Regions from separate parts of the Homo sapiens genome. Here regions 1, 2, 4 and 5 are each linked to region 3. The links come from fine-mapping of genetic effects on gene expression. A gene starts in region 3. Each other region holds a variant in brackets. All regions are shown on one strand. Distances are between the middles of the regions.

Region 1 (5,099 bases), 85 kb after region 3:
GCTGAAATTGCTGCTACTAGAAATATTAGCACAGTAGGAGAGCTGAGCTTTTGAATCAGGTGGTCTTCAGTATGAATCTTTGCCTTGTCACCTAGAAGCAATATGACCCTCGTCAAGTCACTTTCTGATTTTTTGAAGTGATAATGACATGCAGTTGAGAGTCCGGGTATCCGGGCACAGGGCCTGCTGCGCTGGTAGCCGTTACTGCAGGCAGGTCCTGATAGGGCTGGGGAAGTGCTGCAAGTGGCAGAACTGGGGCTGGAATCTGGGCCTGATTCCCAGGCCACACTGGGGTTGCGCTGGCACTGAGGGGGGCTTTGCAGAGAGCACGGGCCCTGCATGTGACCTCCCTGGGCTTCAGGTTTTCACTCAGGGTCTGTGGAAGGGGCTGGCATAAATTCTCAGGAAATTGGGCTTCTGGGTTCCAATTTAGCCACTCTCCAGCTTGGTGACCTTGACCCTCCCGCTTTTCTGTAAGCTTTGGTTTCTTTTTTTCTTTTTTTTTTTTTTTGAGACAGAGTTTTGCTGTTGTTGCCCAGGCTGGAGTGCCAGTGGCCTGATCTTGGCTCACTGCAACCTCCACCTCCTAGGTTCAAGTGATTCTCCTACCTCAGCCTCCCAAGTAGCTGGGATTACAGGCACGCGCCACCATGCCCAGCTAATTTTTGTATATTTACTAGAGACGGGGTTTCACCATGTTGGCCAGGATGGTCTCAATCTCTTGACCTCATGATCTGCCTGCCTTGGCTTCCCAAAGTGCTGGGATTACAGGCATGAGCCACCGCGCCCGGCCTAGCTTCGGTTTCTTTACTGTTACGTGAGGCTGAAGAGAACCTCCCCAGTCTGTTGGAAAGGTCACTATGAGCAGTTGATGGGGAAGGATGTTCAGCACAAGAAGCAGTGCAGGTGGGAGAGTCCGGGTACTGATGTGGCCTCTTGGACCACCGCCAGTGCTGCCTTCTGTTCCCAGAAAGCCAGGGCAGACCTCCTTCGTGCTGCCTCTGCCATACAGAGCAAGGGGCATAAGTGAATCCTCCTGTCCACTGAGCTCAGGAAACTCATTCTAAGGGAAGAGATTGGCAGAAAGAGGGGGGCCAGGCGAGTTGGGCCTCCCACATCAGAATATCTTGATAAAGAGTCAGACCCCAGAGCCAGGCTTCCCTGGTTCATATCCCACCTGTGTCACTGGCACCAAGCCAGCCTCCTTCCCTGCTTCAATTTCTTCATCTGTGTACCGGGAATCATCATAGTACCTGCCTGCCAAGCTCTTAATAACATTTGTGGCACACAGTATGAGCTCGAATGTTCACTGCTGCTATTACCAGGCAAAATTTGGAAATACAGTGTTGCTTAAATTGGGTATCTATAGGCTGGGTGCAGTGGCTCACATCTGTAATCCCAGCACTTTGGGAGGCAAAGGTGGGTAGATCACTTGAGGTCAGGAGTTCGAGACCAGCCTGGGCAACATAGTGAAATCTCGACTCTACTAAAAATACAAAAATTAGCTGGGCGTGGTGGTACATGCTTCTAATCCCAGCTACTCGGGAGGTTGAGGCAGGAGAATCACTTGACCCAGGAAGCAGAGGTTTGCAGTGAGCAAAGATGGCGCCACTGCACTCCAGACTGGGCAATGGAGCCAGACTCTGTCTCAAAAAAAAAAAAAAAAAAAAAAAATTGGGTGTCTTACCTGGCAAAGTGATTTCATCTCCTGCTCACTCAAGTAGAAGTAGACTGCACTGCAAGGAGAAATAAAAAATATTTAAGTCCTCATAGTCATAAAGAAATACTGAACACATGGCAAGAGCACCTCACTTTTTTTTTTTTTTTTTTGAGATGAAGTCTTGCTCTGTCGCCCAGGCTGGAGTGCAGTGGCGCGATCTTAGCTCACTGCAGCCCCCACCTCCCAGGTTCAAGCGATTCTCCTGCCTCAGCCTCCCAAGTAGCTGGGATTACAGGCACGCGCCACCACGCCTGGCTAATTTTTGTATATTTAGTAGAGACAGGGTTTCACCATGTTAGTCAGGCTGGTCTCAAACTCCTGACCTCGTGATCTGCCCACCCTGGCATCCCAAAGTGCTGGGATTACAGGCATGAGCCACCGCACCTGGCCAAGAGCGCATCACTTTGAAGGCGCATCCACTGTGGGCCTGCCCTGGGCACCTACCCTTGTGTCTGGATAGCCTGGGAGAAGGGCTCTGTGATTGGCCAAGGGTGACTTAAGCTCTGCTGTGGAGAGGATGGGGAGACCCGCCTCCCAGGAGTGAGTCCTGGATGCGGAAGAGGGAGCGGCAGGGGGAGTCAGGGCTGGAAAAGTCCCAGCCTGCTCAGAAGGCCTGGAACGCTGGGATAAGAGGTTGGACTTTGTCCTTTTGGCAGCAGGGGGCCACGGAAGGGTGTTGCATGCTGAAGGGCCGTGGTCAGCCTGTTTTGGGGAGACTGTACGCTTCACTCCTGCCCCCTGGAGCTTCCAGGACTGCCTCATATCCTCCCCTCCCCCCAAAAAAGGTCAGGAATTGGGCTGGGCTGGCCTGGCTGTGGTGACCCTGGTCTTCTCCTGTCTCCAGAGAGATCTTGGTAGAGGAGAGCAACGTGCAGAGGGTGGACTCGCCAGTCACAGTGAGTACCTGCTGTCCCTGCAGAGCCAGGCCTGGTCTTTCAGGCACATGAAGTTTCCTCTTCATCTTGGGGGCTCTATAAGCCCAACCCTAAGCTCTTTTATCTGTCCTTTCCCTCACCTTCAA[C/T]GGAGCACTGCTAAAAGAAGTGGGGGTTGCTGTGCACGTTGGCTCACACCTGTGATCCCAGCATTTTGGGAGGGCAAGGTGGGCACATCACTTGAGGTTAGGAGTTCGAGACCAGCCTGGCCAACATGGTGAAACCGTTTCTACTAAAAATACAAAAATTAGCCACGCGTGGTGGCACGTGCCTGTAATCCCAGCTACTTGGGAGGCTGAGGCAGGAGAATCGCTTGAACCCCAGAGTTGGAGATTGCAGTGAGCTGAGATCAGGCCACTGCACTCCAGCCTGGGTGACAGAGGGAGACTCCGTCTCAAAAAAAAACAAAAAAAAACAAAAAAAACAGGCCGGGCGCGGCGGCTCACGCCTGTAATCCCAGCACTTTGGGAGGCCGAGGCAGGTGGATCATGAGGTCAGGAGATCGAGACCATCCTGGCTAACATGGTGAAACCCCATCTCTACTAAAAATACAAAAAAATTAGCCAGGTGTGGTGGTGGACACCTGTAGTCCCAGCTACTCGGGAGGCTGAGGCAGGAGAATGACGTGAACCCAGGAGGCGGAGCTTGCAGTGAGCCGAGATCGCGCCACCGCACTCCAGGCTAGGCGACAGAGTGAGACTCCGTCTAAAAAAAAAAAAAAGAAAGGAAAGAAAAGAAAGGGGTTATGGGAAGGGACTTTGGATTTGTTAGTGGAGATTCTTGGCCAGGGCAGAAGGACTCCTATTTGGCGAGTGATTCTGCTCACATATCTCCAGGGCTCTGTGTTAGTAACTTGATTCTGGGTACTTTGTGGGGAGTAGAGAGAGGAAGGGGCCGGGACATCTACCTGGAAGGACTTAGTTCTAGCTCTTGCCTACAGAATAGTTGGTACTCAGCATAGGACAGTGGGTATGGTTCCAGACCAGACTGACTTGGGGTGGGAGAGGAGAATTTTGGTCCTAGGAAGTAGAAGTGCAGCCAAGAGTGATAAAGCTCACTAAAGCAGCGGGTGTTTGGAGGGTAGTCCCTGGCAACTCCCACTGCTTGAGTTCCAACCCCACTCTTCCTGTTCCCCAGGTGTGCGGCGACATCCATGGACAATTCTATGACCTCAAAGAGCTGTTCAGAGTAAGAGTGTGGCCAACACTGTGAAATGTAACGGGGGGATGACTGGAAGACCCCTGTAATTGAGGGTGGGAGCCTTAATTTGGGGCGTGGAGTGGGGGCAAGGGGCCCCAAGTTAGATGGGTGGTTGTGGAAGAAGGGCCTCCGCTGGACAGAAACAGGTAGGGGGTAGGGGACTGTTTACGACAGGGCAAAACTTTCTACTTCCCCACAGGTAGGTGGCGACGTCCCTGAGACCAACTACCTCTTCATGGGGGACTTTGTGGACCGTGGCTTCTATAGCGTCGAAACGTTCCTCCTGCTGCTGGCACTTAAGGTGGCAGTCCCCGGCTTCTGCACCCCCAACCTGGGCGACCTCGGGCCGGGCCTGTCTTAGTCCGTTCCGCCCTCATCTCCTATCGTGACCAGCCCCACCTTGGAGCTGTGTCACTGGTGATGGACCGATTCTGCTTTTGGGGGTGGTCAGAGACTTGATGGGGGTTGAGGCCAGCGGGGCAGCATTCTGGGAGGGGCAGAGGCTCACTGTTGCGAATGTGGCAGGTCATTGATGCCACTGGTGGGAGAGGCAGTGTGGGGCCAGATGACAAAGGGCCTGGGTGCCTTGCTAGGGACCCGGTCTGTGTCTGGTAGGTGAAAGAAGAGCCATTAGGTTCATAGTTGAGGGAATGGGTCAGCTTTACATTCTCTGGAGGGGTCGTGTGGGCCTGGGAGGTGGCTGATGCCACACGATTCAGGCAAGAGGTGCCAGGAGTGTGCTGGGCAGTGGTTGTGAGGATGGCAGGCTGGCGGGCACGAGGAGGTCAGAGAGGGATGTGTGGAGAGACCGTCTAGGCGCCAGCCCTGGCTTGGTGGCCACCCCCAGGTTCGCTATCCTGATCGCATCACACTGATCCGGGGCAACCATGAGAGTCGCCAGATCACGCAGGTCTATGGCTTCTACGATGAGTGCCTGCGCAAGTACGGCTCGGTGACTGTGTGGCGCTACTGCACTGAGATCTTTGACTACCTCAGCCTGTCAGCCATCATCGATGGCAAGGTAAGCCAGCCCAGGGCTCCATGGGACAGGGAGAGGAGGGGGGCTTCAGGCCTCAGCCCCGTCCTCTTTCCCTGCTCTCCCCTGTAGATCTTCTGCGTGCACGGGGGCCTCTCCCCCTCCATCCAGACCCTGGATCAGATTCGGACAATCGACCGAAAGCAAGAGGTGCCTCATGATGGGCCCATGTGTGACCTCCTCTGGTCTGACCCAGAAGGTGAGGGCATGT
Region 2 (5,099 bases), 82 kb before region 3:
CCTCAGTGGTCCGCAGGGCTCTGCAGGCTCCAAGCTCCGCCAGCCTCTCTGCCACTCTCCCTTTGCTTGCTGGGCCTTGGTCCCACGGACACCTTGCTGCTTCACACATCCAGCTTGTGCCTGCCCCGGCCACTGGCTGTGCCCCTGCCCGGGATGCTTCTTTGCTCAGCTGTCAGCGTGGCGTGTCCGTCATGCCATTCAGATCGCAGGTCACACAGTGCCTCCTCAGGGCCAGCCCTCCCCAGCCCCCCTGGCTAAAACAGCCTCCTCTACATCCTGCCTTTTGTGTTATCAGTTTTCTTTTTCTTTTTTTGAGACAGAGTTTCGCTTGTTGCCCAGGCTGGAGTGCAATGGCGCCATCTCGGCTCACTGCAACCTCCACCTCCCGGGTTAAAGCAATTCTCCTGCCTCAGCCTCCTGAGTAGCTGGGATTACAGGCATGTGCCACCACACCCAGCTAATTTTGTATTTTTAGTAGAGACGAGGTTTCTCCATGTTGGTCAGGCTGGTCATGAACTCCCGAACTCAGGTGATCAGCCCGCCTCAGCCTCCCAAAGTGCTGGGATTACAGGCGTGAGCCACTGCACCAGGCCTATCAGTTCATTTTCTACACAGCAGTTAGTGTCTGACTTTTTCTAACTTTTTGTATTTGTTTATGATCTGTCTCTTCCCACCTAGGAATAACTACCTAGTATACAGCTGATGCTCTGTATTTGTTGAATGAATGAACATATTTGTTGAGTGAATGAACTTCATTGGGTGGGATGACGTTGGAGAAAGAAATCTGAAGCAAACCCATGGGCTTCTTTCTCTTCTGTCTTCTAGAATCTTCATGCCAAAATCCCTCTCACTTCTCCCAACCTTGAAAACTCAATGCGCAATTCTAATACAAATTCCAGATTTGTTTTTTGCAGAAACTCATAAGACTCTCTAAAATTAACAGAGAATAATAAAAGTCTACAATTACTGAGGCCATTTTTTTTTTTTTTTTTTTTTTGAGACAGGGTCTTGCTGTCATCCAGGCTGAGTGCAGTGGCATGACCACAGCTTACAGCAGCCTTGACCTCCTGGGCTCAAGCCATCCTCCCAAACTTAGGTCAGTTTTTAAAAATAAGAGCAAAGAGGAAAGGCCGACCCTGCCAGATATTAAGATAGGCTGCAAAGCCACAACAGTGAGAACGGTATCAGTTCGGGCACAGAAACAAAAATACCTGAGAAACACAACAGAGCGATCAGAAACAGACCACTGTGTATATGAGAATTGGTATTTTTAAAAAGACACCACAAATGTGCGAGGGGAATTACGGAGTATGAATTCGTTATCTATCACTGTGTAACAAACTGCCCCCAATTTAGGAGCTTAAATTAACAATATTTATTACTTCTGTTTCTGAGGGTCAGGATCTCAGCAGTGGCTCGGCTGGGTGGCTCCGGCACAGGGTCTCTTCTGAGGCTGTGGCCAAGATGTCAGTGGGGCTGTGGGCATCAAAGGCATGACCGCCCCTAGAGGATGCACTCTGAGAAAGCTTGTTCATGTGGCTGGCAAGTTCGCACTAGCTGCTGGCAGGAAACAACAAATCCCTGCCATGTAGATCTCTCCACAGGGTTGCTTGAGTATCCTCGCAGCATGGCAACTGGCTTCTCCAGAGCAAATAATTCCAGAGAGGGCAAGGTGGAAGCCTCATTGTCTTTTTTATTTTTGAGATGGAGTCTCACTGTGTCGCCCAGGCTGGAGTGCAGTGGCGTAATATCGGCTCACTGCAACCTCCGCCTCCCAGGTTCAAGTGATTTTCCTGCCTCAACCACCCAAGTAGCTGGGATTACCGAGGTGTGCCATCACGCCCAGCTAATTTTTGTATTTTTAGTAGAGACAGGGTTTCACCATGTTGGCCAGGCTGGTCTCAAACTCCCGACCTCAGGTGATCCACTCGCCTCAGCCTCCCAAAGTGCTGGGATTACAGACGTGAGCCACAGCGCCGGGCCCCTCCATTGTCTTTTATGACCTAGGTCTGTTGGTCCTATCCAGTGAGGAAGGAGATGACACACAGGAACGAGCACCAGGGGACGAGAATCATCAGGCTGCCTTGGTGGCTGGCTCCACAGGCCACCGCTGGCTCTCAGTGATTTCCCCCCTCCCACATGCCAAATATACTCACCACCTTCCAGGATCCCCCATCATCCCATTACAGCATCAGCTCAAAGTACAGAATCTCATCATCTCAGTCAGGTCCAGGTGGGGATGTGGCTCTAGCATGCAGTTCCGTAACTATGGCTCCTTAAGTGCATTTCTTTTTTTTTTTTTTTTTTGAAATGGAGTCTTGCTCTGTCTCCCAAGCTGAAGTGCAGAGCCACCACCATCTCACCTCACTGAAAACTCTGCTTCCCAGGTTCAAGTGATTCTCTTGCCTCAGCATCCCAAGTAGCTGGGACTACAGGCATGCACCACCATCCCAGCTAATTTTCTTTAGTAGAGACGGGATTTCACCATGTTGGCCAGGCTCGTCTTTAACTCCTGACCTCAGGTGATCCACTTGCCTTGGCCTCCCAAAGTGTTGGGATTACAGGCGTGAGCCACCGCATCCAGCCCTTAAGTGCATTTCCTATCTGCAGACCTGTGAGCTAAAGAGACAGGTCATCTCCACACTCCCAGTGTGCAGTGGTAGAGGCAGGCACAGGATAACCAGTAAGGACATTCTTGCTCAAAAGCAGGGGAAGCCGGGCGTGGTAGCGTGTGCCTGTCATCCCAGCTACTCAGGAGGCCAAGGTGGGAGGATTACTTGAGCCCAGGAGTTCGAGACCAGCCTGGGCAACATAGCAAGACTCTGTCTCAAAAAAAAAAAAAAGTGGGGCAGGGGACAGGAGGCACATATAAGTCATACATATAAGTCACTGGTGTGTGGAAATTCTGTAATCCAGTTGGAGAAATGCTAGGAACTCTTTGATGCCTACTCCTGTTCATGAATGATTCTCCATGGCTCTCCCTGAGTCGTCCCACCTCTTCCA[T/C]GAAAGATGTTTGCAGCTCCACAGTTTCATCTGCCTGCTTCCTGCCTGTAAAAGTTTGGGTGTGCAAAGCCGTCTTGTCCTTTTGCACTGGCTCTGTCCCTTTCAGTCCAAGCTGGCAGTGTCTCTGCCAATATAATTCTCTTCATAACTTATTGGGTATCTTGCATGTCTTAGGGTTCACTACATTAGAAAAAAGCCACACCTAGAAATCTCTGCAAGTGGCCAGGCACAGTGGCTCACGCCTGTAATCCCAGCACTTTGGGAGGCCGAGGTGGGTGGATCACCTGAGGTCAGGAGTTTGAGACTAGCCTGACCAACATGGTGAAACCCCATCTCTACTAAAAATACAAAAATTAGCTGGGCGTGGTGGTGGGCACCTGTAATCGCAGCTACTCAGGAGGCTGAGACAGGAGAATCACTTGAACCCAGGAGGAGGAGGTTGCAGTGAGCTATCTCAAAAAAAAAAAAAAGAAAAGAAAAAGAAAAAAGAAAATCTCTGCAAGGTAAGCCCTTCTCTACTTTGGGCTTGTGCTGAGACGCTGAAAGACAACACCTTTAACCTTCTCAGAAGCGTGATTATTATTTCATTCGACTGGAAGTCCCCTCTGAGGCATCTTGTTGGTATTTCTGAGGTCTTAACAAAGGACTTTTTCATCACATCCTCAGCTTGACCTTTAGACCACATTTCCCTGTATTTAATGCCTTGTATTTAATCTTTGCACGGAAGCCATTTGTTAATTTTAACATCACTTGTTATCTGGAAAGGCTGGGAATTTTCAAACCCAACAATTTCAGGCTCTTTTTCATTTAAGTGTTTTTTTTCTTTAACTTACTCTCTCCTCTTCAGTTTTACTATAAGCAGCAAGAAGCCAGGTGGCACCTTCAACATTCTGTCTGGAAAGCTCCTTAGCTAGACCATCCGTTCCTTAGGTATATTTCCTACCCTCCACACTAATGCAGGAGACAGTGTTGCTAAACTTTCTGCCGCTACACAAGGATCTCCTTTCCATCAGTTTCCAATAGCATTTTCCTAACTGTTCTTCAAGCCCTTATTGCAGCTGTCTTAAAGGTCACTGGACTCTTATTAACAGACTTTCTCACCTTTTTTCTTTTAATTTTTTTAGAGACAAGGTCTCACTATATTGCTCAGGCTGGTCTCGAACTCCTGAACTCAAGTGATCCTCCCACCTTGGCCTCCAAAAGTTATGGTATTACAAGTGTGAACCACTGTGCCCAGCCAATACTTTTTAACACTCCTTAAGCTTTTACTAACAATCTCCTCAAAGTCCTTCCAGCTTCTTCCCACTTCTCAGTTGTAAAGTTACTTCTACATTTGAGGTTTCTGTTATGGCAGACCCCCATTCCAGAAACCAAAGTCTGTTCTCTGTTACTGGGTAACAAATTACTACAAACTCAGCAGCTTAAAACAACAGTCCAGGTGTGGAGGCTCATGCCTGTAATCTCAGCATTTTGGGAGGCCAAGGCTGGAGGACTGCTTGAGGTCAGGAGTTCGAGACCAGCCTGGCCGACAGAGCAAGACTCTGTCTCTATTTAAAAATAAATAAATAAAAATAAACATTATCTCACATAGTTTCTGTGGGTCAGGAATTTGGGATGGGCTTAGCTGGGTGGCCCTGGCCCAGAATCTGTCATGAAGCTGCAGTCTGGATTTTGGCTAGGGCTGCAGTCATCAGAAGGTTTGCCTGGGCCTAGAAGCTCTGGTTCTGAGACAGGTCACCACTATGGCGGGGAGTCTGTGCTTGCTGTCGGCAGGGGCTTCAGTTCCTCACCAAGTGGACCTCTGCTTAGGGATGCCTGAGTGTCCTCACATAGCATTCACATAGAGTGAGTGATCTCAAAGAGAGGCAGAAGCTGTAATGTCTTTTATGACCTAGCTTCAAAGTCACATGCTGTCATTTCTGCAATGTCCTATTGGTCATACACAAGGGTCTCCTTGGTGAGGATCTGAAAAGGTCTGCCCTATTTGGTGTGGGAGGGGACTGAACAAGAGCCTGGAAACCAGGAGGCAAGAACCCCTGGTGGCTGTCTTGGGTGCTGGCTACCTCTGGACTGTTTAATACCTGGCACTGGGAAAA
Region 3 (5,081 bases):
GGGCACCACAGGCCCGAATGTAGCGCTTCAGCCTCATCACAGCCGGGTGGTCCTCTCCACGGCGACCTGAGCCAGCCTAGCAAGGAAAGAGCAGCTGAAGGCCAAGCCTGCTGGGCCTGAGGCAGGGTCTCCCTCTTCCCTAATAGTGGCCTCCCACCCCTCCTCACCCTCACCTTCCCTCCTTTGGCCTCTGGACTTCCATCTGAGGAGGAAGAGGAGCTTCGTGTCCTGCCTTTCCTGGAGCTCTTCTTGGAAGAGCGGTTCTTCCTCTCCCCCTGGGGGCCTCCCCCTGCCTCGCTGTCACTTACCTCCCTCTCCAAGTCACTTTCCTCACCACTGGTGCTGCCCAGTCTGGCCATCTTTCTAGAGCCTTTAGCTGTGGGTTCCCCCTTCCCACTGTCTTCCTCGTCCTCGCTGCTTCCACTCAACCTCTTCCCACCCTTAAGCTGGGTCCTGTCCTCACTCTTCCTCTGCACTGGGGGTTCTCTATCTCTCCCACTGTCATCCCCACTGCTGGCTGCCTCTTTCTGCTCTTCCTCGCTGTCTGAGTCTCCCAAGAGCCTCTTTGCCTGGCTTTTCTGCTTACAGCTCCTCTCCTCCCTAGCTGACTTTCTCCGGCCATTGCTCCTGGTTCTGGGTTTCCAATCCCCCTTTTCCTCATCCTCTTCTTTCTCTTCCTCCTCCACTTCCTCCTCTCTCTGCTCTTTCTTCTGGGCTAGGATCTCCTCTTCACTCTCCTGTTCACTTTCCTTCAGGCTTTTAGTTCCTTTATTTCCCTCCACCTTCTTTGCTGTCCTCTGAACGGGTTCTGCCTCGCTCTCCTCACTTTCTTCCCTGGCCTGCTTCCTACTGACTGAGGCCTTGCCTGGTGCCTGCTTCTTTACCACAGGTTTCTTCCTAGTCTTCCCCTTGTACCCCTTTTCCTCCTCCTCACTGCTCTCCTCTCCCCTCTGTGCGGGCAGGTCCCTCTGCCGTTCCTCATCACTGCTCTCCTCAACTGCCTTTGAGGCTCGCCTTGGATTCTCCTCTTTGGCTGGGCTGACTTCTGCTGCCACCCCATTCTTTGCTGGGGGTCCAAAGTAGTCTGGGCTGGAGGCTTCAGAGCCGGACTCTGGAATATGGAGAGGAGAGAGGGTTGAGACAGGCTCCTCCTGTCCCTTCTCCCTTCACTTCGGATAGGTTGCCTCGAGCCCTGCCCTGACAGTTGGAGGGGCAGCAGGAAACAGCTATCTGTACTTGCTGTTCCCGGTTCCTGACTCACTAGCCTTGCTCCCTCATCTAACGCCTGGGGACATAAGAGATGCGCAGTGAATGCTTCTTGAGTGAACCAACGATGCAGAAGGCCCCCACAGCAGGGAGGAAGCACTAACCCGACTCTGAATTGAAGCGGAACCTTTTTCTCTCCGGGTCGCTACAAGGGGTGGGAGGCCTCTTGCCCTTCTTGGTAAGGTCCAGTTTGTCTTCCCTGGAAGCGGCTTCATCCACCTGTGTGTGCGCCAAGAGGGCAAACTATGCACCAAGGCTGCGCTCACCGCGCCCCGTCAGGCCCCTCCTCCTCAGCAGCAAGCCCCGCCTCCGCCTCCCGCGGCCCAGGCTCCGGCCCGGCACACCTGCATCTTCAGCAGCTCCTCCTCCACCAGCCGCTTCAGTGCCTGCTTCTCCTCGGGCTCCAGGTGGCTGCGGCCCGAGTGAGCTAAGTACCTCCGCCGCACGATGGAATGCGTAAGCGTGCTGCAGGGACATGGTGTCAGGACGGAGTCCCGACCCACCCGCGCCCTTTCCAACCCCATCTCCAACCCCCTGGGCACCTGAGGTCCGGGCGGCCTCGGAAGAAGCTACGGGTGAACTCCTGCATCTCCTTCTCCCGCGCCATTTTGCTCAACCCGGGATTGACGGCTCCCGCCTTTTTTTCTTCTCGGCCTCCGTCAGCGCGTTTGACAGCGGCTCGCGCACGCGCAGTGCTGCGGCAACGTGGGGCGAGGGACCGTTGGCCCTTGGCCGCGGACCGCGTGGGCCGAGAACTTTGCCAGACGAGACTTGTTTTCTCTGGGCAGTTGGAGGGTCTCGCGGCTCCTACCCTTTTTTGGAACGGATCATTTTAAAAGTTCTCGTTAGAAACCAATTCGGCGCCGGCACCCTTTGGGTGAAACCTAATCAGCCCGCGACGCTGCCTTTCTCACTGGTCACGGGCAACAGCTAGGCTGCTGTTATTTCGCAAGGCAGAAGAGAAAAGGCATCCTCGCGAGCAGATGAGGAACCTCGGGGATAAATCCTTTTGTGGCTTCAAGTGTCTAAGTACATTAGAGTCAGGAACGGCGCTTTCCAGCGTCCGCCATTTTTGTGGCGTCACCGCGTCGCTGCTACGCCATCCCCAGCGCAGTGGCTGCCGCGCTCCTGTCCCAGTGTCCCCCGGGAGGTCGGCCCGTGCGGTGACGCCCCTGAGCGCGGGGTACGCCGGGAGTTGTAGTCCTGACGGCACAGCCTTGCAGCGTCTCCGGAAGTGGAGGCGGGAGCGGCACGGCAGCCACTGCTTGGGGTAGCGGGAGGGCAGACTCTGGGCGCCACTCCCGGGCCGGTCATGAACGGGCCGGCGGACGGCGAAGTGGACTACAAAAAAAAATACCGGAATCTGAAGCGGAAGCTCAAGTTCCTCATCTACGTGAGTGCTGCCGCGGGAAGGCTGTGGGGGATGAGGCCTGGCGCGGACAAGATCTCAGTTTACCCAGGTGTAAAGTGGGTGGGGCGAGCGGCCGCTGGTTCCGGGGCCCTTCACGGAGGACCGTTGGCCCAGCGCACCCCTTGCCCGTGATACAGGAGCACGAGTGCTTCCAGGAGGAGCTGAGGAAAGCGCAAAGGAAATTACTGAAGGTGTCCCGGGACAAGAGGTGAGGCACGTTGCAGGGGCGGAGGGCGATGTGCTTCCTAGGAAATCTACATTCGGACCCCATCCCCGAGTAGGGCCACAAGTGCATGGGCTCTTTCAAGTATCCGATGGGCCAGCTGGGAGGGACAGGTACCCAGGAGGACATTGCTGCGCTGGAAAATCACTGTCCGTGTCTCCTTCCCTCCCCTCAGTTTCCTCCTAGACCGACTTCTGCAGTACGAGAACGTGGATGAAGACTCTTCGGGTGAGCAAGGTCTTCAAAAATTGGTGGAGAGCATGGTTCCTGGTACTTAGCAAGCTTCCTGGGCCCCCGCCTTTTAGGCAGTGGTGGCTGATGCAGCCCCCAGTGGTCCTTAAGCCTAGTTGCTTGCCTTCCACCTCCACCGTTCTTTCATTCAGGCACTTACTGAGCACCTATTGTGTTTCAGGCACTGTGCTTGGCACAGGGGATACAGCAGAGGCAGAGATAGGCAAAGCCCTTGGCCTCTTGTAATTTATATTCTAGTTGGGAAGAATAAGTAAATGAAGACAATAGACTAGAATTTTAGGTCATAGGAAGGACTTGAAGGTAATGAAAACAGTTATGCGGTAATGATTATAGTAGAACAGGGGTTGATGAATTGTTTCTGCAAAGGGCCAGATGGTAAGTAAGCTTTTTGCAACATACAATCTTTGAAGCACCTACTGAACTCTGCCATTGTAGTAGCAGCCGTACCCCATAGGCAAATACATGAGTATGGCTATGTTTCTATAAAACTTTATAGGCACTGAAATTTGAATTTCATATTTTTCCATATGAAAAATTTTTCTTTAGTTTTTTTTTTTTCCAACCGTTTAAAAGCTTAAAAGCCATTCTTGGCCAGGTGCAGTGGCCCACGCCTGTAATCCCAACACTTTGGGAGGCCGAGGTGGGCGGATCACAAGGTCGGGAGTTCAAGACCAGCCTGACCAACATGGTGAAACCTCGTCTCTACTAAAGATACAAAAATTAGTCGGGTGTGGTGGCGTGCACCTGTAATCCCAGCTACTGGGGAGGCTGAGGCAGGAGAATCATTTGAACCCTGGAGGCAGAGGTTGCAGTGAGCCGAGATCGCTGCCACTGCATTCCAGCCTGGGTGACAGGGCGAGACTCCGTCTCAAAAAAAAAAAAAAACGCCCTTCTTAGCTTGCAGACCACACAAGCAGGCAGCAGGCAACCTCTGAATGGAGTACTCAAGAAAGGCCTTTCACAGAGTGACATTTGAGTTGGGACCAGAGAAGAAACCAGCCTTCCATCCTGGGCAACATAGTGAGACCCCATCTCAATTAAAAAAAAATTAGCCATGTATAGTGGTGTATACATGTGGTCCCAGCTACTTGGGAGGCAGAACCAGGAGGATCCCTTGCCTGAAAGGTCAAGGCTGCAGTGAGCCATGATAGCACCGCTGTGCTCCAGCCTGGGTGACAGAGCAAGACTGTCTCAAAAGAAAGAAACCCCATCCTGGCTAACACAGTGAAACCCTGTCTCTACTAAAAATACAAAAAGTTAGCCGGGGATGTTGGTGGGCACCTGTAGTCCCAGTTACTCGGGAGGCTGAGGCAGAAGAATGGCGTGAACCTGGGAGGTGGAGCTTGCAGTGAGCTGAGATTGCACTACTGCAGTCCAGCCTGGGCAACAGAGCCAGACTCCATCTCAAAAAAAAAAAAAAAACAAAAACCAATCTTGTGAAGAAGTGGGCTAGAGCTGTCCCGGCAGAATAATATAAATGCAGCTACCCTGAGGTAAGAACAGGTCAGGCTTGGTTGAAGAGCAGAGGCATGAAAGAGAGAGAACACTGTTTTCGTCCTTTTATTTGAATATTGTCTGCAGTTAACTATATTTTACATCATAACCAGGGCCCCACATGTTAAACAAAACAAAGTTTAACGAAACATTTTTAAGATCACTGTATCCAATTCATCCTGACACTTTTTAGACTGCTTTTTTCCCCTTCTTTTAATGCTGGTTGCAAACCAATAAATTGATTTCATGACCCACTAATGGCTTGAGACCCACAGTTTGAAAAAGCCCTAAGGTAGGCATTTGTGGGCCTCTTCCTGGGTGAGGCCCTCGTAAGCCATGTCACGTAGAATCACCTCTCTCCGTGGTGCCTTTAAACATTGGTCTGGGCCGGGCACGGTGGCTCACGCTTGTAATCCCAGCACTTTGGGAGGCCGA
Region 4 (5,099 bases), 100 kb after region 3:
CCCGCTCAATCCCCGCATCAATCCCGTGAGGCCGTTTCTCCCGTTGGCTCCACTGTACCGGGGGCTGAGGCCCAGGGAGGTCTCGCGGCTCCCTAGGTTATCCAGCTAGTAAGAGGCGAAGCTGGAATTCTCACTGTGGGCCCATTCCATGGCTTTTGCCAGAGCGCCAGGGACACACTCAGTTCACCTTCTAGCAGGGAAGACCCAAAGATGCGCGCCCCTGGCAGCCAGGGCGTCGGACCAGGCAATTCCTACTGTCCAGCATCACCTCCTCCAGGCCTCTCGGATGCCTCTGTTGGGACAGCTAAGTTCCTCTTCAAAGACTCAATTTCCTGGTCATAAGCTGTAAACAGATTCTACTCCCGCTTTTTCTTCTTTGTCGCACGTCTACCCTATTTGGGAAAGTTTAAACCTTAGCCAATCGGGATCAGCTCAGATTGTGCGGTCCAACCCCCCAGCCAATGGGGAAAGGACACAGAAACAGGAACTGCGTTAGGGTTAAAAACCACTTCCCTCCTTTGTTGGCGGGTGCTCTTGGGATTGCAACCAGCGCAAGCAGCACCCTTCTGCAGAAGTAAAGATGCCTTGCTGGGAAGTCTTCTGTCTCAGTGCTGGTTTTTCTTGACTACACTGAGCACTTGTTTTCAACAAATTTGAGGGTCTTCTGGGATCCCATTCTCCTTTGGGAGGGGTAGCGATTACTTTTCCTCGTGAGACACGTCCCACTGCCTTGTTGCAGTGGCCCAAGGAGCGGAGGATCGGGTCCACCCAAAGTGAGGAATAAATCCGGACTTTCAGCAACGTGGGCAGGAAGGAGCCTTAAAATTCCCAGGCAAGTGGGTAACTCTGTGCACAGACCAAGGTAAGAAAAGTTGCTACTGGGGCGACAAAGTATTTCCTTGGTGGTTGGGGTCACTTGGAGGTTGAAAGTGCATGGCTGAGACATGTCAGTGGACACGAATCGAGTGTGGAGTCCAGACTTGGTTCCATGGTCACCTCATAAGGCTTAGGGCGGTTTTCCAGTCGGGGATTATACCGACCCGCTAATGCTAAGAGGGGCCTGAAATTCCCACGAGGGAAGCGGCCAAAAAGTACGAAGCGATTATTCATATGAGTGCAAGAAACCTCCAATGGGAAAAGGGAGAGGTTAAGCCCCTAGGAAATGGGCACCAACCTCCAGAATGGGAAATACCCCAAGTAAGACAGGGAGTACAAAAGGCCAAGCAGACAATAAAATTCCCCCTGACAGTCCTCTGGGCCTTATGTTAGAGTACTGGAGGTATAATGAAAGAACCATGTAACACAAGGAAAGACAGTGAATGATAAAATATTGCTGTTTTATTTGGACCAAAGAACCTATCCTCAGACCCTCAGTCTTTTGGCCAAAGTTTGGATCAGACGAGGATTGGATATGCCAACTCTTAATCCAGTATGTTAATAAAAAAAGTCCAGTCTCTCAAGAGGAAATAGATTATGCTCTGTGTTGGAGACAGGAACATGTCCTTCCCTTTCCCTTAAAGGATGACGTAAAAGAGAAACCAAACTCAGTACCCTCCTAGGACAACCCAGTTAAGTCAGATTCTACATCTAAAGATGCCAATGTATAGGATCCCCTAGACCATCTTCCCCCGCCTACCCCACCTCAGGCTAATCACTCAGTCCCTCCCCCACATAACCCTGCCCTGTGGGCCTTGTGGCCCCACATCCCCATTGAGCAGCCACCCGAACATGTCCTTTCCTCAGGAAAACTCCAGCACGAGATGGAACAATGCCGGAGGGATATTCAGAACTTTCCTTTTCCCTCTTCCTCAAAGGGGTCTGCCCCAACCCCTTTTCCCTTAAGTACCACTGGGAGGAGGGGGTATTGGTTTCGTAAATGCCCCCTTAACTAGTTCAGAGGTTAGAAATCTGAAAAAGGAACTCAAACCATTATCAGATGATCCTTTTGGAGTCACAGATCAAATTGAACAATTTTTAGGGCCGCAATTGTATACTTGGGCTGAATTAATGTCCATCTTAGGTATTCTCTTCTCAGGGGAGGAAAGAACCATGATCCGCAGGGCTGCTATGATAGTCTGGGAATGTGAACACCCTCTTGGTCAAAACATCCCTGCAGCAGAGCAGAAATTCCCAGCCCAGGACCCTCAGTGGAATAGGAACAATGCAGCCCACTGAGAAAACATGAAAGACCTCAGGGATATGATAATTAAAGGGATTCAGGAATTGGTGCCTCAAACCCAAAATATTTCTCGAGCATTTAATGTACACCAAGAAAAAGATGAAGGGCCCATGGAATTTTTAAAGACACTTAAGGAGCAAATAAGAAAATATTCAGGCTTAGACATAGAGGACCCACTTGGACAAGGGATGTTAAAGCTCTATTTTATCACCAACAGTCGGCCGGACATTAGAAAGAAATTACAAAAGATAGAAAATTGGCAAGACTGCTCCATAGAGGAACTTTTAATTAAGAGAGGCTCAAAGGCCGGGCATGGTGGCTCAAGCCTGTAATCCCAGCACTTTGGGAGGCCGAGGTGGGTGGATCATGAGGTCAGGAGATCGAGACCATCCTGGCTAACACGGTGAAATCCTGTTTCTACTAAAAAAATACAAAAAATTAGCCGGGCGTGGTGGCGGGCGCCTGTAGTGCCAGCTGCTCAGGAGGCTTAGGCAGGAAAATGGTGTGAACCTGGCAGGTGGAGCTTGCAGTGAGCTGAGATCACGCCATTGCACTCCAGCCTGAGAGACAGAGCAAGACTCCGTCTCAAAAAAAAAAAAAAAAAAGAAAGAAAGTGATTAACTCTGATTTGGGTTCCACCGTCAGATTTATTTATTGATTTATTGATTTATTTAT[TA/T]AAAAAAAATTCCCAGGGAAGTGGTCAGGAGAAAACGATACCCTATTCCCTTAGAAGCTAGAATGGCTCTAAAACCTATAATTGAGGGCCTCGTCCATGACGGACCCCTTGAACCCTGTATGTCCCCTTATAACACTCCAATATTGCCTGTAAGAAAGTCAGATGGGTCATACCGGCTAGTAGAAGACCTCTGGGCTGTTAATCAAACAGCTCAAACTACCCACCCTGTTGTTCCCAACCCTTACACTATTATCAGCAAAATCCCATATGATCACCAGTGGTTCACAATGATAGATTTGAAAGATGCCAGCTGGGCACGGTGGCTCACACCTGTAATCCTAGCACTTTGGGAGGCTGAGGCGGGCAGACTGCCCGAACTCAGGAGTTTGCAACCAGCCTGGGCAACACGGTGAAACCCCGTCTCTACTAAAATACACACACACACACACACACACACACACACACACACACACACGCCAGGCATGGCAGCATGTGCCTATAATCCCAGCTACTCAGGAGGCTGAGGCAGGAGAGTTGCTTGAACCCAGGAGGCTGAGGTTGCAGTTAGCCGAGATCGTGCCACTGCACTCCAGCCTGGCAACAGAGCCAGGCTCTGTCTCAAAAAATAAATAAAATAAAAAATAAAAAAAGAAAGATGGCTTTTGGGCTTGCCCTTTAGCGGAAGACAGCCGGGACATGTTTGCTTTTGAGTGGGAGGACCCTCACTTAGGTCGAAAACAGCAGTACCAGTGGACAGTCCTACCCCAGGGGTTTACAGACTCCCCAAATCTATTCGGTCAAATTTTAGAACAAGTCCTAGAAAACTTTTCCCTTCCTTCATCCATATGCCTACTCGAATAGGCAGATGACCTGTTCATTTCAGGAAATAGCAAGGACCACATAACCACAGTTTCAATTAACTTCCTGAATTTCCTAAGGGAACAAGGGTTACGGGTCTCAAGGAGTAAAATTCAGTTTGTAGAACCTGAGGTAAAATATCTAGGACACCTAATCAGTAAAGGCAAACGGAAAATAGTACCTGAACGAATTGAAGGTGTCACATCTCTACCTTTGCCTGAAACAAAGCAGGAACTTAGAAAATTCTTGGGATTAGTTGGATACTGTCGTCTATGGATTGACTCTTATGCCTGAAAAACAAAATCTCTACATAAAAAACTCACCCAAGAAGGACCAGACCCCCTTCTTTGGACCCTATCAGAAGTCCAACAAGTAGAAGAGTTAAAACACCTACTTGTAACTGCCCCCGTTATAGCTTTGCCCTCCTTAGCCATTCCACCTTTTCATCAGTGTAAACAAGGGGTTGGCTTTAGGGGTACTCACCCAAAGACACAGAGGCCACTGGCAGCCCATAGCCTTCCTGTCAAAAGTTCTTGACCCAGTAACCCACCGATGGCCCGAATGTGCCCAGTCTGTAGCAGCAACTGCTTTGCTAATGGAACGAAGCAGGAAAATAACCTTTGGGGGAAGCCTCATTGTATGTACCCTTCATCACGTTAGAACCATTCTTAATCAGAAGGCAGGAAGATAGCTCACTGACTCAAGGATTTTAAAATGTGAGGCTATCGGGTGGGTGTGGTGGCTCACGCCTGTAATTCCAGCACTTTGGGAGGCTGAGGTGGGCAGATCACAAGGTCAGGAGTTTGAGACCAGAGTGCCCAGCATGGTGAAACCCCCTCTCTACTAAAAATACAAAAAATTAGCCAGGCATGGTGGCGCACGCCTGTAATCCCAGCTACTTGGGAGGCTGACGCAGGAGAATTGCTTGAACCCCGGAGGCGGAGGTTGCACTGAGCCGAGATCAGCCACTGCACTTCAGCCTGGGCAACAGAACGAGACTCCATCCTCCACCCACCCCCCAAAAAAATTGAGGCTATCTTATTAGAGAGGGATGATTTAACATTGACCACTGGTAGTTCGCTCAACTCCGATGTTTTCCTAACAGGAAATCCGAACCGGGAGGAACCTGAGCATAAATGTTTAGATCTGATCAGTTATCAGACTAGAGTCAGACTGCATCTAAGCAAGACCCTGTTCCAAACTGGGCATTACCTCTTTATAGACGGCTCCTCTCGGGTAATTGAAGGAAGGAGGCATAACGGGTGCTCTGTAGTTGACAGGGAAACCCTCATGGAGGTAGAGTCAGGGAGACGGCCCAATAACTGGTTCACTCAAACATGTGAACTCTTTGCATTAAATCAGGCCTTAAAATCTCTGCAAAATCAG
Region 5 (5,099 bases), 24 kb before region 3:
AAGGAGAAAAGGCAAGAGAGACCACAGGGATTTGATGGAGAGGCTCTGTGAATGCAGGATAGAGGGCTATGACCTGATGCTGAAGGCCGTGGGGGCCACTGAGGAGTTTTAAGGAGGAGAGAGATGTGCTTCCCTGGTGCTGGGTGGAGAATGGCTGAGTGGAGGAGGGCCATCAGTCAGGAGGCTGCTGCACACTCCACTCTCACATTTGAAAATACCCCATGAGGCACGGTGGCTCACGCCTGTAATCCCAGCACTTTGGGAGGCCAAGGCCGGTGGATCACTTGAGGTCAGGACCAGCCTGGCCAACATGGTGAAACCCCATCTCTACTAAAAATTTAAAAATTAGCTGGATGTTGTGGCGGGCGTCTGTGATCCCAGCTACTCAGGAGGCTGAGGCAGGAGAATCTCTGGAACCTGGGAGGCAGAGGTTGTAGTGAGCTGAGATCATGCCACTGCACTCCAGCCTGGGCAACAGAGTGAGACTCCGTCTCAAATAAAGAAAAAAAGAAAAGACCCCATGAGGAGCACAACCTGGGACTTGGAATCAGAGATCTGGTTTCCAGATCTAGCACTGCTTGCACTTTTTTTTTTTTTTTTTTTGAGATGGAGTCTTGCTCTATCGCCCAGGCGGGAGTGCAGTGGCGCAATCTCAGCTTACTGCAAGCTCCGCCTCCCAGGTTCACGCCATTCTCCTGCCTCAGCCTCCCAAGTAGCTGGGACTACAGGCGCCCGCCACCATGCCCGGCTAAGTTTTTGTATTTTTAGTAGAGATGGGGTTTCACTGTGTTAGCCAGGATGGTCTCAATCTCCTGACCTCGTGATCCACCCACCTCGGCCTCTCAAAGTGCTGGGATTACAGGTGTGAGCCACCGCACCCAGCCACTTATACATCTTTAAACTGTGGATCATAATGAAGTTTCCTATCTCATGGAGTTATGATGGGGTTTCAGGTTGATAATTGGGCAAGAAAGTAGTTTTTAAACCATCAAGACAAATGTTCGAGCCTGGGCAACATGGTGAAACCCCATCTCTACAAAAAAACACACAAAAAATTAGCTGGGCGTGGTGGCACACACCTGTGGTCCCAGCTACTCAGGAGGCTGAGGTGGGAAGATCGCTGGAGCCCAGGAGGCGGAGGTTGCAGTGAGCCGAGATTGCACTACTGCACTCCAGCCTGAGTTACAGAGTGAGACCCTGCCTCAAAAAGAAAAAAAAAAAAAAGGGCCAGGCGCGGTGTTTCACGCCTGTAATCCCAGCACTTTGGGAGGCCGAGGTGGGCGGATCATGAGGTCAGGAGATCAAGACCATCCTGGCTAACACGGTGAAACCCCGTCTCTACTAAAAATACAAAAAATGAGCCAGGCGTGGTGGCGGGCACCTGTAGTCCCAGCTACTTGGGAGGCTGAGGCAGGAGAATGGCGTGAACCCAGGAGGCGGAGCTTGCAGTGAGCTGAGATCGCGCCACTGCACTCTAGCCTGGGCGACAGAGCAAGACTCCATCTCAAAAAAAAAAAAAAAAGACAAATGTCAGCTTATATGAAAATAACATTTTCCCTTCAGTTGCTCCCTAGATGTGGAGAGCCCTCTCCCTCATGGAGGCTCCTTCTATAGCCCTTGGACTGGATTAACATGTCCTCCTCCTCCTCTCCCTGTACCCCTCCCTAGGAGGAGCTGGCTCTGTGTGGCTCCAGGCTGCTGGTCTTGGGCTCCTTCCTGCTTCTCTTCTGTGGCCTTCTCTGCTGTGTCACTGCTATGTGCTTCCACCCGCGCCGGGAGTCCCACTGGTCTAGAACCCGGCTCTGAGGGCACTGGCCTAGTTCCCGACTTGTTTCTCAGGTGAGGTTCTTTGCTCCAGTCCTGCGGGAGCAGGGAATGGGGTGGGGGTGGGGGTTGTAACCGGGGTAGAGCAGATCCTTGGACTTTTCCTCAAAGACTGCTGCTTCTGAGTCCCCGAGAACCTCTTCAACCACAGCTCTCCCTTAGGGACTGGGAACAATTTGACACCGTCAGCATTCAATATTTTTCTAATTACTTTAACTTTTTTATTATAAAATAGTTAACACTTATGTAGAAAAGTCCAATAGTATAAAAGGACAGCTTGGCAAATTATTATAAAGTGGATACTTATAAATACCACTGAGTAGAATATTACCAGCTGTCCAGAAACCCCCCATGGTCCCTTCCTTCCTGACAATGCCCTCTCTCTCCCTAGAAATTACTGTCCTGCTTTATAATGTATTGCCATGTATGTATTCCTAAATAATATAGTTTGGTTTTACTTATTTTTGAAACTATGTAGACAGAATCATACACATTCTTTTGTGGCTGACTTCTTTCAAGCAACATTGTGATTTTAAGACTCATAACTAGTTCACATCCAAGCATTTGGGTAACAATGGTGAGTTAAGAGGGTTCACATTTGATGATTTGTCCTGAATATGAACCATGTTTGTCTTGCTTTTGTCCTGAAATTCCAATACCCAGTTTTATGATGGAAATTTTGTAAAATTCAACTTGAACCGCTCAGAAGAGTCTAACTGATGATACTCATTTACTGGGGACATAGTATGTGCCCAAGAACTTGACATGCACCTTCTGTCTTCCATTTAGTCATCGTTACCTTTAGAAAAAGCTGATTCCGTTAACAAGATCTTTGGAGGGAATCAGCTTCACAAACGTAGCAGTGGGTGGGGGTCATGTTGGTTAACCAGTTCACACATCAGCTCACTAAAGGAAAAAATATTTCTGCAAAAAATCTTCACTTGTCAGAGGGGGGTGCATGAAATTTGAGAGCCATGTGTTATGCATCCAGCTCTTGAACTGGTCTCAGCTTCAGCTGGCTGCAGTGCCCTAGGAAGTTACTATGGGAA[A/G]AGTGGAAATAGTTGAGGCCCAGGGAACTGATCAGGCCAGAGGAAGTGGAAGCTCAAGATCAACTGTGCTTATTTTGCTGATGGCTGGGCCTAAATGCCCCAACCACCTACTTGGGACAGGAAATGACAGGACCCTCTCAACCTTGGACTGGGAAAGGAGGGCTTCCTGGCCCCTGACAGACCCTGGGGTCCTGAGGCTACCTTAGTTGGGATTAAATGCCCGTATTGGTCTCTAGCTGTCACTCCCTCTGCTCCTTCCTCAATTTCTGCACACATCTCAGAGCTTCCTCTAGCAGCTCTTCGACCTGTTTTGTTGTTTTATTTTCTTTCTCCCCAGGTGTGAATCAACTTCTTGGGCCTTGGCTCTGAGTTGGAAAAGGTTTTAGAAAAAGTGAAGAGCTGGAATGTGGGGGAAAATAAAAAGCTTTTTTGCCCAGTGGCGTGTATGGTGTTTATTGGGGGTTGGATTGAGGTGGGGATTTTAGGGTAGGCAGGCTTAGAAGTTTTGGGGGACTCTTTCCTGTTGACTCTCTAGTTTGGACACAGGTTGGCATAGGGCATAGGTTACTTGAGCTCTCCCCATGGTTGACTTGGCTTTGGTAAACACCTGTCTTGTTTTCTTCTACGAAATAAAATGGATAATTACAGTTAGTTGGGCGGGTGGGGTGTCAGGTCATGGAAATGCTGTGACATAAATGCACTGTGACCTTGGCAAGTCTTGCAACCTGCAGCGCCTCAATTTCCGTAAGAGATTTGACCGATTGAGTTTTCCCAGCGTCGACGCGCAAAGATTCCTCGCACTTGGAGGCCCTTTTCCAGGTTAGATGGTTGCTAACCTCGGAGCAGTCTATTTTCCCGCCTTTTCCGCGCCCAGCAGCAGCTTCCTTTGCCCCTCCCAACTTCCACCCTGCGCGCAGTCGCAGATCGCCGCTGCTGTCCGTCCACCCGCGCCCCCTCAAAGCTTCCCCTAGCAACAAGCTCGGGCTCAGAGCGAAGGCGGGGCGAGCGCATGCGCTGCAGCTCTGTCCACCGCCAGTCGTGGGACAGAGTGCCGGGCTCCTCCCCTTGCAAGTCTAGCTCTTCTCCCCGCCTCCTCCGGCCTGGGGTCCGCGTGGCGGGGCGGGCGCGCACTCGGGCTTGGCGGCTGCCGGTCTCCCAGGCCGCGGCAGTGAGGAGAGAGGGCGGGGCTGAGTCCTCTGCGCCCCCGCCCCCTTTAGCCCGGCGTCCCTACCGCGCCTGCGCGCTCCCGCCCGGTCTCCATCTTGGAATTGGGAGGAAGAGGGAGAGGGAGACCGGGACGAGACCGGGGCTGTGGTGCGGAGAGAGGCTGAGACGGAGAAGAGGAGAGGCAGAGAGGGCGCGGGGACCGTCAGCAGCACCTTAGCTACAATCGTTCAGCTATTCTCGGAAGAGAGAAGGGAGAGGGAGGAGGCCGGGGCGGGAGTGGGGGCTGTCACCCTCGGACCCCGGCGTGAGAGGGGCCGTGCGGCCGGACGTCCTCGGGGTGGGCCCCCAGTCGGTGGCCGAAGACCTACAGCTCAGGCCCCTGGGTCCCAAATTTCCAGGCTTTGCCCCTCCTCCTTTCTCAGATACCCGGGTAACAGTCCTCATAGTCCAGATATCCGGGACTCGGGTCCCAACCTCTCTAAACCTGGGTCTCTGTTTCATAGAATTTCAAATATCAGGTTCAGGCCCCTGCGTGCACCAGTATCCGGGGTTCATTCCCCGGGCGTTCAAATATCGGATTCAGTCTCCATCCCGTTCAGATATTCGGGGTTCAGACCCCACAATCAGAAATCCGGAATTCGGCAGCTGTCGCCCTCGACGAGGGGGAGGACTGGACCGCGAGGTCAGATTAGGTTGTCACCCCCTCCCCTCCAGGGGAGGCTTCCCGGGCCCGCCCCTCAGGAAGGGCGAAAGCCGAGGAAGAGGTGGCAAGGGGAAAGGTCTCCTTGCCCCTCTCCCTGCTTGGCAGAGCCGCTGGAGGACCCCAGGCGGAAGCGGAGGCGCTGGGGCACCATAGTGACCCCTACCAGGTGAGACACGGGGTGCAGGGGCGCGGGTCCCTGTGTCTAGTTCTGAGAAGAAAGGGTGCGCCTTTCTGAGAAGCTGGACTTGGGTAGGCCCTCTCAGGATGGGGAAGCCCAGCTGAGCGAGTGGTCAGCCTCTGGCTAGCCTTGCCTTCTGTTGCCACCCCCTTCCCCTTCCTCTTCCCTTCATTGTGTC

Evidence for each region.
Region 1: its variant is fine-mapped to the expression of INO80E in tibial nerve (GTEx, PIP 0.97).
Region 2: its variant is fine-mapped to the expression of INO80E in whole blood (TOPMed, PIP 0.98).
Region 4: its variant is fine-mapped to the expression of INO80E in whole blood (TOPMed, PIP above 0.99).
Region 5: its variant is fine-mapped to the expression of INO80E in stomach (GTEx, PIP above 0.99). The same link has a PIP of 0.9 or more in esophagus muscle and gastroesophageal junction.

The regions. Positions count from the first base shown.
Region 1 is chr16:30,078,695-30,083,793 of GRCh38, forward strand. It overlaps PPP4C (protein phosphatase 4 catalytic subunit), which reads left to right. Exons shown (of 9, transcript NM_002720.3): 3 at 2,565-2,616; 4 at 3,790-3,840; 5 at 4,052-4,153; 6 at 4,700-4,873; 7 at 4,961-5,087. Among named protein-coding and RNA genes, the nearest start is that of PPP4C, 5.2 kb to the left of the region's middle. The variant C/T (reference allele first, on the strand shown) is at 2,742.
Region 2 is chr16:29,912,147-29,917,245 of GRCh38, forward strand. All of the region lies in intron 2 of KCTD13 (potassium channel tetramerization domain containing 13), which reads right to left. It also overlaps a transcript of ASPHD1 not described here. Among named protein-coding and RNA genes, the nearest start is that of KCTD13-DT, 12 kb to the right of the region's middle. The variant T/C (reference allele first, on the strand shown) is at 3,004.
Region 3 is chr16:29,993,733-29,998,813 of GRCh38, forward strand. It overlaps INO80E (INO80 complex subunit E), which reads left to right and starts at 2,509. Exons shown (of 7, transcript NM_173618.3): 1 at 2,509-2,659; 2 at 2,815-2,885; 3 at 3,076-3,128. The coding sequence starts at 2,579. HIRIP3 (HIRA interacting protein 3) reads right to left here and starts at 1,885. Exons shown (of 7, transcript NM_003609.5): 1 at 1,809-1,885; 2 at 1,611-1,731; 3 at 1,371-1,485; 4 at 174-1,111; 5 at 1-76. The coding sequence starts at 1,873. RefSeq lists enhancers at 1-376, 2,233-2,402, 2,463-2,592.
Region 4 is chr16:30,096,558-30,101,656 of GRCh38, forward strand. YPEL3-DT (YPEL3 divergent transcript) reads left to right here. Exons shown (of 2, transcript NR_135192.1): 1 at 1-862. Among named protein-coding and RNA genes, the nearest start is that of YPEL3-DT, 2.7 kb to the left of the region's middle. RefSeq lists an enhancer at 1-82 and silencers at 1-32, 53-102. The variant TA/T (reference allele first, on the strand shown) is at 2,855.
Region 5 is chr16:29,969,740-29,974,838 of GRCh38, forward strand. TMEM219 (transmembrane protein 219) reads left to right here. Exons shown (of 6, transcript NM_001083613.2): 5 at 1,669-1,839; 6 at 3,211-3,309. The coding sequence ends at 1,806. It overlaps TAOK2 (TAO kinase 2), which reads left to right and starts at 4,129. Exons shown (of 16, transcript NM_016151.4): 1 at 4,129-4,909. LOC124903762 reads left to right here and starts at 3,883. Exons shown (of 2, transcript XM_047435036.1): 1 at 3,883-4,041; 2 at 4,258-4,896. The coding sequence starts at 3,883. The coding sequence ends at 4,896. RefSeq lists a silencer at 3,819-4,188 and enhancers at 4,612-5,099, 5,090-5,099. The variant A/G (reference allele first, on the strand shown) is at 2,874.